Linked DNA regions of Homo sapiens. The protein of the gene in region 3 purifies or fractionates together with the protein of the main gene of each other region. This does not show direct contact. Each region holds a gene or a part of one and is shown on either strand. Other genes may lie near its edges.

The links.
Region 1: the proteins of KERA (region 3) and MAP3K7 purify together in Homo sapiens (affinity purification with mass spectrometry; 2 studies listed by BioGRID and IntAct, with this or other methods). This does not show direct contact.
Region 2: the proteins of KERA (region 3) and UBR1 purify together in Homo sapiens (co-immunoprecipitation; one large-scale study listed by IntAct). This does not show direct contact.
Region 4: the proteins of KERA (region 3) and STK11IP purify together in Homo sapiens (affinity purification with mass spectrometry; 2 studies listed by BioGRID and IntAct, with this or other methods). This does not show direct contact.
Region 5: the proteins of KERA (region 3) and PRKCI purify together in Homo sapiens (affinity purification with mass spectrometry; 2 studies listed by BioGRID and IntAct, with this or other methods). This does not show direct contact.

The regions. Positions count from the first base shown.
Region 1 is NC_000006.12:90,549,057-90,552,578, forward strand, and holds part of MAP3K7 (mitogen-activated protein kinase kinase kinase 7), read right to left. Parts: intron 3,124-3,522; coding exon 2,993-3,123; intron 1,494-2,992; coding exon 1,412-1,493; intron 1-1,411. UniProt on the Homo sapiens protein: Serine/threonine kinase which acts as an essential component of the MAP kinase signal transduction pathway. Plays an important role in the cascades of cellular responses evoked by changes in the environment.
Region 2 is NC_000015.10:42,945,698-42,949,040, reverse strand, and holds part of UBR1 (E3 ubiquitin-protein ligase UBR1), read left to right. Parts: intron 1-3,343. UniProt on the Homo sapiens protein: E3 ubiquitin-protein ligase which is a component of the N-end rule pathway. Recognizes and binds proteins bearing specific N-terminal residues that are destabilizing according to the N-end rule, leading to their ubiquitination and subsequent degradation.
Region 3 is NC_000012.12:91,052,502-91,055,040, forward strand, and holds part of KERA (keratocan precursor), read right to left. Parts: intron 1-2,539. UniProt on the Homo sapiens protein: May be important in developing and maintaining corneal transparency and for the structure of the stromal matrix.
Region 4 is NC_000002.12:219,600,852-219,604,373, reverse strand, and holds part of STK11IP (serine/threonine-protein kinase 11-interacting protein), read right to left. Parts: intron 3,140-3,522; coding exon 2,934-3,139; intron 2,734-2,933; coding exon 2,659-2,733; intron 2,387-2,658; coding exon 2,291-2,386; intron 1,907-2,290; coding exon 1,799-1,906; intron 1,670-1,798; coding exon 1,598-1,669; intron 1-1,597. UniProt on the Homo sapiens protein: May regulate STK11/LKB1 function by controlling its subcellular localization.
Region 5 is NC_000003.12:170,298,918-170,302,439, forward strand, and holds part of PRKCI (protein kinase C iota type), read left to right. Parts: intron 1-77; coding exon 78-193; intron 194-3,522.

The DNA.
Region 1 (3,522 bases), on a different chromosome or scaffold from region 3:
GTAGAAAGCTAAAACTGATGATGCAAGAGACAGGGGAGAATTGCTCAGAGGAGCAGATGGGATATAATGCACAGGCAGAAAGGTACACCTTTGGCCAGAAGTATGGATAGTTTAGCCAGAGTAACAGAAGAAAGCAGAGTAGATGGGCACAGATGTTGTGGAAGCTGTCTTCCGATTACTCCAATTTTCTCAGAGAAAGAGCAAACAAGATCAGCTGAGAGTGAGGAGTGGCGAGGAGGTGTTTGAAGTCTGAGGAGAGGCTACAGTATAAAATTAAGACATATAGGAGGAAAGAGATGAACTACAATACAGTACAACTGTCCAATAGCACTAAACATGCACGTGAGGATAGTAAACCTGTGCTATCTCCAGCCACACTCAGCTGCATTGGTACAGGCAAGGAGTAAGCCGAGTGTCAGCTTTCATTAGGCTTGTGGTTTAGCCAAGCAAGCTTGAGAGAGAGGCTAGAAAGATGAAAATTATTCCCAAAAGAATTATAATAGTTGATTGGAATTAAGTGGAGGGAGAAAGAAAAAAGGACCTAAGAGGACTGAGGACCAGTGAAAAGGTGGGAGGCTCAAAAAATTCAAGGTCACAGTAAGGAAATGAAGAGAGAGTTTAGAGGACGTGGGAGACACAAATGATAGAATTTTAGAGAAGTACATTTTAGAATTCAGAGCAACTCAAAATATTTTCAGTAAAACTGGAATTTGAGAATAACTAGCCAAGCAGTAACCATCTTAAAATAAATAAAACTATTCTTGAGGTGGGAGAAATAGATCAGTAAAAGTATTTTTCAATAAATGCAGGGTAAATACATGTGCATATAGACACACACATATCTTTAAGTTTCAATTAATAATGAAATGCTTATAATGCCACTATATTTTGAGAAGTACAATATTTCTAAGTTACAGTATTATTTCTACTATCTTTTTGATGACCACAAATTACATGTCCCACTACTACTTCACATTTCGGAAAACTAAGGAACTTTTAACATAGCTTCTTAAATCAGAGCCTCTGTAGAAGAGAACAAAAACTAGGGTGTTCGTGATGAAGAAATGTTTAAATACATTTACAATAATTTCTAATACTACTTGATCTAGTAGTATGCATGTAAAAGTGATTTTTCAAGTTAAGAATGACATTCACTGTAATACAATATGCCATCTTTTTATTCATAATTATGTAGGAATTCTAAGACTTGGAAGCAGGTCTTCAATAACTCTTTAATCAGGGTACCTACATGAAGAATGACGCACCTGTAAACTCAAATTGCAGTCAATCATATGAAATGAAGGAATTAAAATGCAAATGGGGACATTATTCATTACTTCTTGATTATAATTTCATGGGAATAGAGATGAAAGAAAAATCAAGTCAATACTCTTCCAATCTATCCATTTACCTGTACTGGTGGCAGAGTTGCTCTGTCCTTCATCTGAATACTGACAAGGATACTGTAATGGCTCATCTGCTCCTGGAAAGTACTATATATAAAAAAGTAAACCACAGCTTAAAATTTCCTTAATACAAATTAAATCCTGATTAATGTTTTATTTTCCCTAAGTTATATACTAAATTTGTAGGTGCCTAAGTTTTTTATTTTACAAAGATTACAATAATGTACTCTTGGATTTCAACTTTGATCAATGCCATGCACCTACCTAAGAATCTAGCTTACATTGGAGTCTAGATAGTCTTGAAGAAAACAGCAAATATTTCTCTAGAGAAACATATGAAATAAAATAGTATCATTTCTCATAATTATGTAAAACATACTCATGTTCTTACAGTAGTGATGTAAACTTCCAGTGACTGTTAGTCTGAAGACTGAGACTAGTATACCATAGAATAATTGTTAGAACATTTTAAATATTAAGAGGATAGATTATGAATGTCTTTCTACAAACTGGAGGCATAATACTCAAAGTATCTGCTGGACAAAAATGTTAGAATTTAGAGAAAAAAAGGAAACGTATTCTCCTCAAATTAGACAAGGAACAGAGAAGCAAAATTACAACTGCAATAACTTATATATCCTAAAGTTTTAAGTAATCTGACTACAGAGACTAAGTTGTTTTCTTATGCACACACCTTTAAGGCCTAGGCTTCTATATATGACTGGTATCCAAATACGATGGTAAACTTTTAGTAGATTAGTTCAAGCTGCTTTGCGTAAGAAATTTTCAATAGATTGAATAAACAACGTTTTACCATTTAGGAAATTACTTAGTCTATATTTAAGGAGATTGTAAGATTCTTCTACTGAACAAACTGTTTCAAAATTCAGGCACTTTCATAGATATTTGAACTTTTTAAAGCCAAGATACCACTTCACAGTTTTTGTTAATGTACCAAAAACCAGAGGCGTAAAATATTCCAAATAATTCTAAAGGCGCTTGATTCACAGACTAGGAAAATTTGATAATCATTTAAAAGGGTTCTTCTAAATAGAAGAAAGTTTAACTTTTTACTGGGATATAAAAACCTGAAAATAGGCCAAATAGTAAAAGTCACTCAAATAAATGTGTCTGAGAATGCAACCTATTGCCTTGCATAAATGACTAAATGCTTGATGAAAATTGGTATCAGAAAAATGTAAAATTTAGTTTATCATGTATTGAAGTCATAATATTAATATATCCAAGTCCTGTGATGGCTTTAGAGACTATCTATTTCAGTTTCTCCCACATTACAAATGAGGCAACAGGCCCAGAGACAAACATACTTGTCCACTAATGTAAGCAAAAAGAAAAAAGCAAGTCTAGAAACCTAGTCTAGCCATCTTTCCAGTGATAAAGAACTAGATTTTCCCTCTCGAAATGTTTCCTCTTCTGACTATGAGTAATAAATGCCCATTCTCACTTAGAAAACATAGCAATATATAAAGCAGAATATAGTAATAACATCCCTTTTAAAATTCCATTAAAACTCAGCACATATTAAATTCCCCTAAATCCAAAGCCCCTCAAAAGAAGGATTATACCCGCATCAAGTGAGTCATTATTTTCACAATTTCCTCCATTGAAGGGCGCTGGGAAGGATCTTTAGACCAACAACGAGTCATCAGGCTCTCAATGGGCTTAGGTAAATTTTTTATCAGTGGTGGTCGAGTACCTACAATTGAAAATGAGAGGAAGGGGGGAAGAATGTATTTACCCAAAGAATGATGCAAACTCTTTGTACGTATTTCCAAAGTGGTATTTATTTTATAGATCTTGTAGTTTAAGATCTGTAATTTGGAGTAATAAAAGTGCTTTGTAATTTTATCAATTAACAAGTTAGTTCTTTTACTCTTTACTTCACGGACGTTCAATTATTTACTGACAACTGATAGAAAGCAAGCAAGCAAGCTGTCCTGGTCAATGCTGAACAGTCTCCACAATGATACTAATGGTAGTAATATTAAAGGCAGTATAGGAAACTGGTAAAAACAGCTAAGATTACTCAGATGATGGTACTGTTTGATAAATCTATGAATGACCTAAATAATTAGGCAGACATTTGTTTTTAGAC
Region 2 (3,343 bases), on a different chromosome or scaffold from region 3:
GTTGGACATTTGGGTTGGTTCCAAGTCTTTGCTATTGTGAATAGTCCCGCAATAAACATACGTGTGCATGTGTCTTTATAGCAGCATGATTTATAGTCCTTTGGTTATATACCCAGTAATGGGATGGCTGGGTCAAATGGTATTTCTAGTTCTAGATCCTTGAGGAATCGCCACACTGACTTCCACAATGGTTGAACTAGTTTACAGTCCCACCAACAGTGTAAAAGTGTTCCTATTTCTCCACATCCTCTCCAGCACCTGTTTCCTGACTTTTTAATGATTGCCATTCTAACTAGTGTGAGGTGGTATCTCATTGTGGTTTTGATTTGCATTTCTCTGATGGCCAGTGATGGTGAGTATTTTTTCATGTGTTTTTTGGCTGCATAAATGTCTTCTTTTGAGAAGTGTCTGTTCATGTCCTTTGCCCACTTTTTGATGGGGTTGTTTGTTTGTTTCTTGTAAATTTGTTTGAGTTCATTGTGGATTCTGGATATTAGCTCTTTGTCAGATGAGTAGGTTGCGAAAATTTTCTCCCATTTTGTAGGTTGCCTGTTCACTCTGATGGTAGTTTCTTTTGATGTGCAGAAGCTCTTTAGTTTAATTAGATCCTATTTGTCAATTTTGGCTTTTGTTGCCATTACTTTTGGGGTTTTAGACATGAAGTCCTTGCCCATGCCTATGTCCTGAATGGTAATGCCTAGGTTTTCTTCTAGGGTTTTTATGGTTTTAGGTCTAACGTTTAAGTCTTTAATCCATCTTGAATTAATTTTTGTATAAGGTGTAAGGAAGGGGTCCAGTTTCAGCTTTCTACATATGGCTAGCCAGTTTTCCCAGCACCATTTATTAAATAGGGAATCCTTTCCCCATTGCTTGTTTTTCTCAGGTTTGTCAAAGATCAGATGTAGATATGCAGCATTATTTCTGAGGGCTCTGTTCTGTTCCATTGATCTATATCTCTGTTTTGGTACCAGTACCATGCTGTTTTGGTTACTGTAGCCTTGTAGTATGGTTTGAAGTCAGGTAGCGTGATGCCTCCAGCTTTGTTCTTTTGGCTTAGGATTGACTTGGCAATGCAGGCTCTTTTTTGGTTCCATATGAACTTTAAAGTAGTTTTTTCCAATTCTGTGAAGAAAGTCATTGGTAGCTTGATGGGGATGGCATTGAATCTATAAATTACCTTGGGCAGTATGGCCATTTTCACGATACTGATTCTTCCTACCCATGAGCGTGGAATGTTCTTCCATTTGTTTGTATCCTCTTTTATTTCATTGAGCAGTGGTTTGTAGTTCTCCTTGAAGAGGTCCTAAACGTCCCTTGTAAGTTGGATTCCTAAGTATTTTATTCTCTTTGAAGCAATTGTGAATGGAAGTTCACTCATGATTTGGCTCTCTGTTTGTCTGTTATTGGTGTATAAGAATGCTGGTGATTTTTGTACATTGATTTTGTATCCTGAGACTTTGCTGAAGTTGCTTATCAGCTTAAGGAGATTTTGGGCTGAGACAATGGGGTTTTCTAGATATACAATCATGTCATCTGCAAACAGGGACAATTTGACTTCCTCTTTTCCTAATTGAATACCCTTTATTTCCTTCTCCTGCCTAATTGCCCTGGCCAGAACTTCCAACACTATGTTGAATAGGAGTGGTGAGAGAGGGCATCCCTGTCTTGTAGCACATAATTTTCAACAACTTCTCCAAAATTTGAAGGTAGTGTTTCCCCAAAATTTTTAAAGACACCAGCCATCTTAATGTTTCAGTGTTCTATTGTTTGTAATCAACCTTTCTTCAGAACTACTTAAAAGGATTGACACTGATAGTATAAGTTTGTAGTGTCCAGTGATGAAGTTTGTTTTAGAGATATTGTTTCCATTGCAATACTTGAAACTTTTTTTTTCTTTGTTTTTTGAGACAGTCTCTCACTCTGTCACCCAGGCTGGATCTCGGCTCACTGCAACGTCTACCTCCAGGGTTCAAGCGATTCTCCTGCCTCAGCCTCCCAAGTAGCTGGGACTACAGACATGCACCACCACACCCGGCTAATTTTTTTTGTATTTTTAGTAGTGACGGGGTTTTACTGTGTTGGCCAGACTGGTCTCGAACTCCTGACCTCAGTTGATCTGCCCACCTTGGACTCCCAAAGTGCTGGGATTACAGGCATGAGCCACTGCACCCAACTGAGACTTTTTATTAGCCAGCTATATCAGCCTTCTTTCCTTCTGAGCATTAACAAAATATTTAGAATCCTGAACTTTTCTGTATCCTTCCCTGGTGGTAGGAACTGGGGTCCTACTGATGACTTATGAAAATGAGGAGACTGACAGTGATCTCAAAAGTACATATAGATAAAGATTAGACCTCCTTACAATAAACTCTTTTTGGTTCACTGAAATTTTGTTCCTTTGAAATATTGCTCAGAAAGAATACACTTATTAGATGGGGCTTGGGACCTTGGATCACACAGAGCTTTCTTTTTATTGGGATGACATTTGACCTGTCTTTAGGTTTAGGGAGAAAAGCAGAGTGGTGAAAGTAGTTAATGACTGAGAATCTTAGTTGTTCCACAAGGGTACAAAGCAGAGTTTTAACATTAATTTGGCAGTTTAAAAATCCCCAACCAGGCGGCCGCGGTGGTTCACGCCTGTAATCCCAGCACTTTGGGAGGCCGAGGCGGGCGGATCACGAGGTCAGGAGTTCGAGACTAGCCTGGCCAACATTGTGAAACCCCGTCTCTACTAAAAATACAAAAACAATTAGCCAGGTATCGTGGCGGGCACCTGTAATCCCAGCTACTCTGGAGGCTGAGGCAGGAGAATTGCTTGAAACTGGAAGGCAGAGGTTGCCCTGAGCCGTGATCGTACCACGGCACTCCAGCCTGGGCAAAAAGAGCGAAACTCCATCTCCAAAAAACAAAAACAAAAACAAAAAAAATCCCCAACCAGCTGAGAGACTTGAATGTCTCAAGGAATTAGGATCTCACAGTTCTCCGTTACTGGCAACAGCCAGACTTAAGTCATTTTGGATTAGCTGTTATACAGTGTTAAAAACTGTGCAACTCTAGAATTGAAGTATAATTATTTTATTAAATTATTTGCTAATAACCAGCCAGTTTTTTGTATCGTAAGGACAGTTACAACCAAATATCTCTGAGTAGCAAAATATAATTTTAGGGCCTAGTGTTATACGTCAGGCCTAACCTCTACTGTGCAAAGATCATAAATTGAAGCTAGATAACAATATGAAGCCAAAAAGCTATTCAAGCTAACCACCAAAAAAGAATAGTGCTGCTTCAAGTTATAAACCTCAGTGACCATTTAAGTGAGGTCCCATAATGCCATAATATACCT
Region 3 (2,539 bases):
GTTGCTTTGCTTTGAATTTATGCCATTTTGTAAACTGAATTTAATAAAAATAATGACTCATTTGAATAGCAGTTTAGTTGTTATAAAATCAGGTTCTCTTTTTTTACATACATCCAAGTATCACCTGATCATCTCACAGGCTTTATCAGCCAATATTATTATTCTACATACCTGGGCATTTTGTGGGAATTCTGGTTCAGAGAAATAAGGAAATGCACACAACTTATTTCAGAAAGTAAGTGGCAGAGCTGAGACCTGGCCGATTCTTTCTAATTCTACAATGTGTCTCTTGCCCAAAAGAATATGTCCCTTTCGATGTGCAATCCCCTTATCCTCATCAAGCTCATGTCCCATAATCAATGTATGTCTGAATAAATGAATATAAAAAAGAAGTATTCTAAATTTAATTACATTTTCATAAATTACAGTGTTTCTCAGGGAACACCAGAAAGTAATGTAGTTGAGTAAATAACATTTTTACCTAATCTTAAATCCCTGAAAGTTTTCAGAAAAATAAATATTTCCATCATATTGCTTAAGACAAGTTCACTGTCTCATAAATTTTGATGTCTTTTCATAGAGGAGATATGTTTCTTAGAGACCACTTTGTTACAACTAGAGTAGATGATGTGGCTAGAAGAAGCAAGTACTTAAACAGTTTTGACACAGTGTGATATTATTATATCAATATTCTCTCCAGGGAAACTCTTATATTTATTTTCTTAAATATTGAAATGACAAAATTTGATATCTACATTAAAAAGTAAATAACTAGATTTCTCTTTGTTGCTTTTCTACTGATAGAATTTTTTAAAAATTTGTATTCATGACAATGAAGGAAAGTATTGTTATTATACTGTATGAGTGAAAAAAACACTTCAGACTCAGGTTCTGGCTATTGCATTTACCCTTTGTCCTTGGGCAAATATCCTCCCCTAGCTGATCTTCAGTTTCTCTCTTTCAGAAATTCCTAATAATATCACACAAGTTTCTCGCAAGGATTAAATAGTAGTTCTCAAATCGTGAGCCAGCAACATCAATACTATTAATACCTGGGGAGTAAACTGTGAGGCCCAACCTCTGACCCAGCAAGTCAGAAATTCTGGGGGTAGGAAACAGCAACCTGGGTTTATAAGATCTCCAGGTGATTCTGATGCACACTCAGATTTGAGAACGATAGAAAATTAGAAACCTATGAGAAAACACTTTGATAAAACTCTAAAATGTGGGTCTATACTACACACATAATACTCCATAAGCTAAAGTCTTATACTTCTCAACTGTGTTTTAAATACTGCTGCCTCACTCCTAAACACCCTAATTCACAAATGCTCAGGATGAAATGCATAATTTGTAAGCAAGGGCTCTATGTGGAGTCACTTGAAGTTTACTTCCCACATCAATTGTCCGTGGGGCTTTTAAGGAATGTACCTGTAATATACCTGTAGAAGCACAGAACACTCGTCAGGAAAAATTATGTATTTAGGTCAATATTGTTGTTGTTCTATTTGATTCAGCTAAACAGATTCATCTCTTAACATTTTTTTTCTGTTGCATCTTTTGTTTTTGACTACAGGATTAAACAATACATTTCATCACCATGGAAAAATAACCGCTATGATGGCAGGCTGCCATTTAATTCCTGGATTGTAGACTCAAGTACACTGTTATTTAACTCCCCCCACCAAAAAAACAAAAATTCTTAAATAACTGAGCAGTTCCCAGTGGAAAAATAGTCTGTTCCTATAAATGATATGTTTATGTGATTATTTGCTTAAAAAGCTTTAGTGAGTAATACCCAGGCAGCACAACCTTTTGACAAATTATCTTTGTTATTCTCTTACAAACTATCCTGACTGAATATTACTTTTGGAATGCATTTTCTTAGGTTGTCCTGGAGAAATCTCCCCAGAGTTATTTTTAAAGGGTCTACTCTGAGTTTGAAGATGCATAGATAAATGCCAGGCTAGGTATCGTACCCCTGTGGCTGGACCTATTTTTACACCAAGTCCAGCCTAGTCTCATGCATAATTGTGAAGAAGCCAAGTTTGTCTCTAATGTGTCCAACATCTGCTTTCTATAATCACTTCTTCTCTTGATGATGCCTCTGCCTCCAAAAACTTTGAATTCATCTCTCACTCCCTTATGAAAAGCTCTTTTCAGGAAAGGAGAGAGTATTCTACCTGACGATTGCCTGTAAGTCCCAAGGAGTTGCCAGCTACCAGGGAAATTTCTTTCCATTTTAATTAATAAAGCCTTAAACTATAGTAGTGGTTCTCAATGTGTAGTTCCCAGAACATCAACTGGACGGCTGTTAGAGATGAAAATTCTCAAGTCTCACTCCACATCTACTGAATCAGAAATTCTGGGGGTGGAGTCACCAGCCTTTACACACTTGTTTGAGACTCCCACTGTAATTAGCGGAGTTTAATTAGAGACTCCAATTAGGAGGGTTTCAGGCATCAGCTGTCATATAGTGTTTAGGACAAAGATGCCTTCCTAATGCCTCTTAAATCATATTTTCTTTATTACTAGTCAT
Region 4 (3,522 bases), on a different chromosome or scaffold from region 3:
ACCCTACTCAGGCTCCTCTGGGCCTTCTTTTTGACTAGGCCTCAACTTTGGCCTGTTAAGAACTGCAGACTTGTTCAGCACAAGTTCAACAAAATTCAACACAAATTATTTTTGTTGACTCCTCCAACCCCCACAGTAAAAAACCTGAACAAAAACAGCAAAGTTCTAATATCTCAAGGATGCATCCCTAGAATGGTGACTCTAGCCCCCTTAAGCTCCTGCCTGGGAAAAGTCAAGGCTGCCAAAAGAATTTCCCATTTGTTCTAGCCAACACCTGATGACAGGGCTCCCATCTCCCAGTCTCTGTGGGAAGGTAGGAGCCTAACTTTTAGCAAACCCAGAAGGGCTTCATGTGAATCAACCTCCACTTCTGCTTTTCGTACATTTCCACTTCCCTTACTCTGCTCAAGCCCTCACAGTTCCCCTTCCTATTCCCTCACTCTCCTTTTAAAATGCCCAGCCACCTCTGCACAAATTGAAGTGGCGTTCAGTTCAGGTTGCACCCTCTTCCCCGCTGCAATAGTTTATCACTGATAAAAAATCTGTCCTTACTTGGTCGGGCACGGTGGCTCACACCTGTAATCCCAGCATTTTGGGAGGCTGAGGTGGGCGGATCATGAGGTCAGGAGTTCAAGACCAGCCTGGCTAAGATGGTGAAACCCCATCTCTACTAAAAAATACAAAAATTAGCTGGGCATGGTGGCGGGCACCTGTAATCCCAGCTACTCGGGAGACTGAGGCAGGAGAACTGCTTGAACCCAGGAGGTTGAGTTTGCAGTGAGCCAAGATCACACCACTGCACTCTAGCCTGGGTGACAGAGCAAGACTCTGCCTCAAAAAAAAAAAGAAAAAAAAAATCTGTCCTTACCACTTTAACTAGTTCGGCTTTATCTCTGACAGGTGGATGGGAGGACCCAGAAGAAAGGTTCTTCATCATAATCACAAAAGCTACCAGTTTCTGAGCTAGGCACTAGACTAAGCAACATTGGGTACTTCTTCACAATCATTTTAATACTATAAAAGCAGGTATTCAGCCGGGCGTGGTGGCTCATGCCTGTAATCCCAGCATTTTGGGAGGCCAAGGCAGGTGAATTGCTTGAGGTCAGCAGTTCAAGACCAGCCTGACCAACATGGTGAAACCCCATCTCTACTAAAAATACAAAAATTAGCCAGGTGTGTTGACACGTGCCTGTAATCCCAGCTACTTGGGAGGCTGAAGCAGGAGAATTGCTTGAACCTGGGAGGCAGAGGTTGCAGTGAGCTGAGATTGCGCCACTGCACTCCAGCCTGGGTGACAGAGCGAGACTCCATCTCAAAAAAAAAAAAAAAAAAAAAAACCAGGTACTCTTGTGATTTCTACTTTACAGGTAAAGAAACCAAGAGGTAACTAACTTGCTCAAAGTTGCACAGGTATTAGAAGTTGAGATATGAACTCTGGTTTGTCTGATGCTAGTGTCTAAGCAGTGCTATCTCCCAGAATGCAGCTCCACCCTCATGGCAAGAGCAAGGTGGGAGTAAAAGCTGGTCAAGGAGAGAGAGTGAGAGCAGAGCAATCAAAGACCCATGGTGTGCCAGCTGCCAAACTGCCCATACTCACCATCAGGAATCCCTGACAGTCCTGGACTTGATTGTGGCTTAGGTTCAAGAAACGCAGAGCTGACAAGAGGCGCTGAGAGAGACGGGGAGGAGGCAGAGAATCGATGTTCACTACAATACTATCTGGTCAACCAGCTGGCCCTCCTCCCCAAAGGCCTGGCCTTGCCCTTCCTCGAAACCCTCTTCCCTCTGAGGCACTCACCAGGGAGCTGTCTAAGGCGGTCAGTGCATTGTAGCTGAAGTTGGCAGAAAGCAGAGCCAGCCAAGGGAGGGCAGAGCAGAAGTCGCCGCCGCAGGCTGAGAGGAGCTCCTGAGCAGACAGATGGGTGCTTCATTACCCCACCCTCCCCTTCCTCCCTATGCCAAGGCCAAGCTCTACCACCCAGTCACTCATTCATTTTTTATACACTGAACTCCATCTGAAGATACAGGCTTAAAGCCCAGGTCCCTGACCCAAGAACTCACTGTAGGGACAGTGGGAAGGTAGACACTAGAATATGTAATATAATATGGTAGGTACGACTATAAATATACAGGCAGTTACAGAGTGCTGCGGGAACACAGAGAGGGAGTGAGGACACTGTCTAGAGGGAAGCAGGAGGCAGGGAGAGCTGCAGAGAGGGGAGAACATCAGAGCTTGGTCTTCTACATCTCTCAAGTTGAGGTGTCTGAGCTCACCCCTCACTCTCCTTACCTCTAATGCCTGGAGGCTCCTGCTGCAAATCAGGGTCTCCAGCTGGGAGTAGATGCCTCGGAGGCCATGCAGACAGTGGAGGGGAACACCTCGGAGCTGGGACAAGGAAAGAGGAGGGAGGAAGGCAGAACCCCACAGAAGACAAAGACCTCATCCCCATCCCCTAGTTGGGAGGAGGGAGAAGACCACAAAGCCCAGCTATGATTTAGGGAAGCAGTAAATGGAAAGACAGTGGATATCACATGACTGCAGAGCAATGGGTATACTCAGGCCTGGCCTCCTCACCAAAGAGGCTCTTCTCTTTCCCATCCCCAAGGGGCTGCCTCAAGTTGGGTGCTGTGCACCAACATCCCCCCGTGTCCCCATACCTCCAGGTGCCGAAGGGATTTGAAGGGGAAAATCTTGATGGGCCCTGTGGGGCCAGGACCAGCAACATGGACCAGCTGAAAAAAAAAAAAAAACTCAATTTACTGAGGCACAGCAGATCTTCCTGCCCTCAACATTCCTTCCTTAGCACAACCACTGGTACCTCTGACACCCTCTGGATCCTGGCACTGCAGACTTCTGCACCCCTACCCTATCCCCAACTTCCATCATTCTCTTGGGCTCCTTGCACATCCTGCCTCTTCCCCACACCCAGAACCTTGAGTGAAAGTGTTTTCTGCAGCACATCGAAGAGAAACTGAAGCTGAAGAATAACAGGGGAGTCGGCAGGATGGGAGGGCAGAGCCACAAAGCCTGTCTGGCCAGGGCCCCATGGCCCCAGGTGCAGCTCAAATACGTGGTTCAGCTGTTGCAGTGTGGGAGTCAGCAGGCTCAGGGTGCTACAGCCAGACAGGACCACATCCCCTGCAGAAAAAGGGGCAAACAGGAGGGAAGACACAGTGAAAAGATTTTTCTCTTTATTCTAAGGCTCTATGATGCCAAAATATACCCACTCCAATCCATATTGTAGATCTTCTATTGCAGGATCAAATTTTCTATCTCCTTCTCAGCTCAAAAGCATTCAATGGCTCCCCTCATCTTCAAAAAAAGTCCTAACATTTCATTCAGCCTGATGAGACTGCTTGGCTACACAACTCCAACCAACTCTTCCAAATTTTCTTTCACCTTCTGCTCAAAAGAGCCTCATCTACTGACAGTGCTGGAAATACAGCCAGCTTGGTTCACAGTTCTCTCTTGTTATGAGACACCCCCTTCCACCGCCCAGCTTGAGACCAGCCTCCTCCAGG
Region 5 (3,522 bases), on a different chromosome or scaffold from region 3:
GAGTGCAGAGGAGAACTGTAGAGGTGGAGTTTTTCTAAGAATACAGACTTGAGCTGTCATCCAGTATGTCTTTTCAGATGGAGCAAAAACAGGTGGTACCTCCCTTTAAACCAAATATTTCTGGGGAATTTGGTTTGGACAACTTTGATTCTCAGTTTACTAATGAACCTGTCCAGCTCACTCCAGATGACGAGTAAGTAATTCTGTACACTGAAATTTTTTTTTAAGTTCTTTGGAAATCCCATTTTTAGTGACTATGCAATGTTTCATTATCAGATTATACTATAATTTTTTTATTTTCTATTTTATTTCATTTTATTTTATTTTGAGATGGAGTCTCGCTCTGTTGCCCAGGCTGGAGTGCAGTGGTGCAATCTCGGCTCACTGCAACCTCTGCCTCCCAGGTTCAAATGATTCTCCTGCCTCAGATACCCTGAGTAGCTGGTACTACAGGCGCGTGCCGCCACGCCCAGCTAATTTTTGTATTTTTAGTAAGGACAGAGTTTGCCATGTTGGCCAGGCTGATCTTGAACTCCAGACCTCAGGTGATCCACCCACCTTGGCCTCTTAAAGTGCTGGGATTACAGGCGTGAGCCACTGTGCCCGGCCTATACTATAATTTATACAACCATTCAGTTACTGGTATTTGTATCTACTGTACCATTATAAGTTTTAATAGTAACTGTCATTTTCTCCTTTGCTTTATAGTGCATTATCTTATTTTCACAACAACTTTGTAATCTAGTTACTGTCATCTTCGTTTTACAGATGAGGAAACCAAGGCTCAGAGAGGTTAAGCAAAGTTACACAGCTATCAGGTGGCAGAGTCAGGATTCAAACCCAAATCTGACTGACTAAGGCCTGTGCTCTTTCTACCACGCTGCACTGTTTCCCATTTGACAAGGACTGTCTTTGAGTTCCTGAGTATTGCCTTAAGATAGATTCCTAGAAAGAGAATTAGGTCAGAGGGTATTAACATTTTAAAGCTCTTGTATTGCCAAATTGCTTTTTTTAAGAAATTACATTGAGTTATTAAATCCAGCCATCAGTGATCTGGTATATTTTTTGTGCTTATACTTCATCTTTTAAACATGTAGTTTGGAATAATTGGGAGATATTTTGATTATTTACCTGTTGTTACAGATTCATTCTCTCTAATCTCAGGGAGGCCCTTATTGTTTGGCAGTCATTTCACTTCTATCTCATTTCTTACCACATTTCTCCCAGCACCTGCTCCAAACAGTCTCTTCATTTCAGAAGCCTTCAGTTCTACTCCTTTTTCCATCACTGTTAATGGATTAACCTTGTCTTAATTTGATGCAAGGACTGATAACCTCTCTGACGTGACCTTGCCTCCTTTGCAGCTGTCCCCAGACCACCTTGCATCTCAGAATTGCTTTCTAACTCTTTTCATCATTTTCTTATTCCCTACTCTTGGAAGACTCTCCTTTACAAGGGGTGTCCCTGCTATTTTCCTAGACCTGTTTCCTTAGTTTTCTCCAAGATTTCATTTTGTCAGTTATCTTTTTATTAGACCTTCTTTATTTTTTTCTAGCTTGTTTCCCTCTGTGTAAGCATGCTCAGATACTCTGATTTTTCCCCCTAACTCATGGCCCCTCTTTGAACAACCACGTTTTTCCTCATTTTCATTTCATCTTAAAGCCTCAAAAAAAAAAAAGTTAATAGATGTTCATGGTCAAAGAAAAATAAATACACAGCACCTCTAATCAAACTTCTTCAGACTAGTCAACATTGATTGTCTTGAATTTTTTTTTTTTTTTTTTTTACTGTCAACACTTCAACCCCTTACAATCGAACCTGTCCTCCAGCTTTTGAAGGTTGAATCAATTTCTTAATTTCTAAATTGTAAAGCATTTTGGGGTCAGTCCTCCTCTCCCTTGATTAATGTAAAGCATTTGGTACTCATGGCTTTGCCTTGGGTAGCACTGCCTATTCTGGTTCTGTTTCATCTCTGTGACTACTTTCCTCTCATGTGTTTTCCCTGTCCCCTTGAGACCAGGATGCTCCATGGTTCTGTTCATGACAGCCTTCTTTTTGCTATATGCAGTTTGTACCTTGGAGATTTCAGCCAGCCCTGTAGCATAGATACCAGCTAATTAAATGGCTCTCAGTTAAATGGCAAATGGTTATTGAGCAAAAGGTGTTATGGTAAATACTAGACATTCAAAGACAATCAAGACAGTCTGATCTCCCCAAAAGCGTGCTGTCTACTAGAGGAGAAAGATGTGTACCAAGTCATTATTTCTGACAGCATTGTGTATTAGAAGGAACACTGGATTTAATCAAAAGATAGGAGTTTGAATCCCGATGCCACCTCTTACCAACTGGGTAACCTTGGATAGGAATTGCATAACTTCTCTGAGCCTGTTCTCAAATTGCCTACCTCATAAGGTTGCTGTGAAGAATAAATGCATGATGGTTTCTGAAGCACTTATCCCCTGCCGTTAGATCTCCTGAGCTGCATTTCTGTTTAACACGGCCCCCAGTTTGTCAGCCAAGCAGCTCAAATATATGAAGTCTAAAATGAAAGTAATGACCCTTTATGATCTCTTTCTATTGTTCTCAATCAGTTCCTTTTTTTTTAGTTACCTAATTCTGCTCACGGTGTGTCCCTGTTGTTCAGATTCCAGATGTCAGTGATTGTGGACTCCTCCTTTTTCTTAACAGATTACATAATACCTGCAGCTGCCAAGTCTTTGTCTGTGTTTTCATTATTTCATCATTTACATCAGATCTTTCTTTTCTCTTCCCGTTGACACACCCTAGTTCAGGCCTCATTCAAGTCATACCCAGAGTATTGTATCAGCCTCCTAATTGATCTTTACTCCTTCACTTTGCAACCTATTCTGTATGCCTTGTGAAGTACCACTCCAATTCTTGAACCCCTTTAATTAGAAACCTTCAGTAACTCCTTCATTGCCTATCAGGTAACATCTATCCTCTTGGCTAGCATTTAAGGCCTCCCCACATCTGCTCCAGCCTGACTTTCTAGCGATACCTCTCACCATAATACAAACAGTGTTCTGATCAGTCTTAGCTACTCACCATTCCCTAGTAGTATTATTGTCTCTGCTTCTGCCTGTTCATTCCTGTGTATCCCGCCTTCATTTTTACCTATTGAAATTTTCCCATCTTTCAGAGCCACCTCAGATGCAACCAGATCTTTGATGGATCAAGGTGAAACTCCTTAGTGTAAACATCACTGGCCTCTTTGATTTAGCCATTATTTTTCTTCAGCATCATCTAACACACTTCTATTCCTGTGCTCCACCCTAATTACTTGCATTTCCCAAGACCTACCACAGTCTTTCATCATTCCATTCATTAAGTGTTTGCAGAATGAATACTGCCTTCCTTGATTTCTCCAACTAGAAGTCACACCTTTCTTTAGAACCATGGTTAGAACAGGACTTAGCTTATTGTGTATAAAATTTAACAAGTACTGCTTTCTCTTCCAGTAGGAATTACCTCCCTTCCTTGAAGGAAGGGACTGTATCCTCT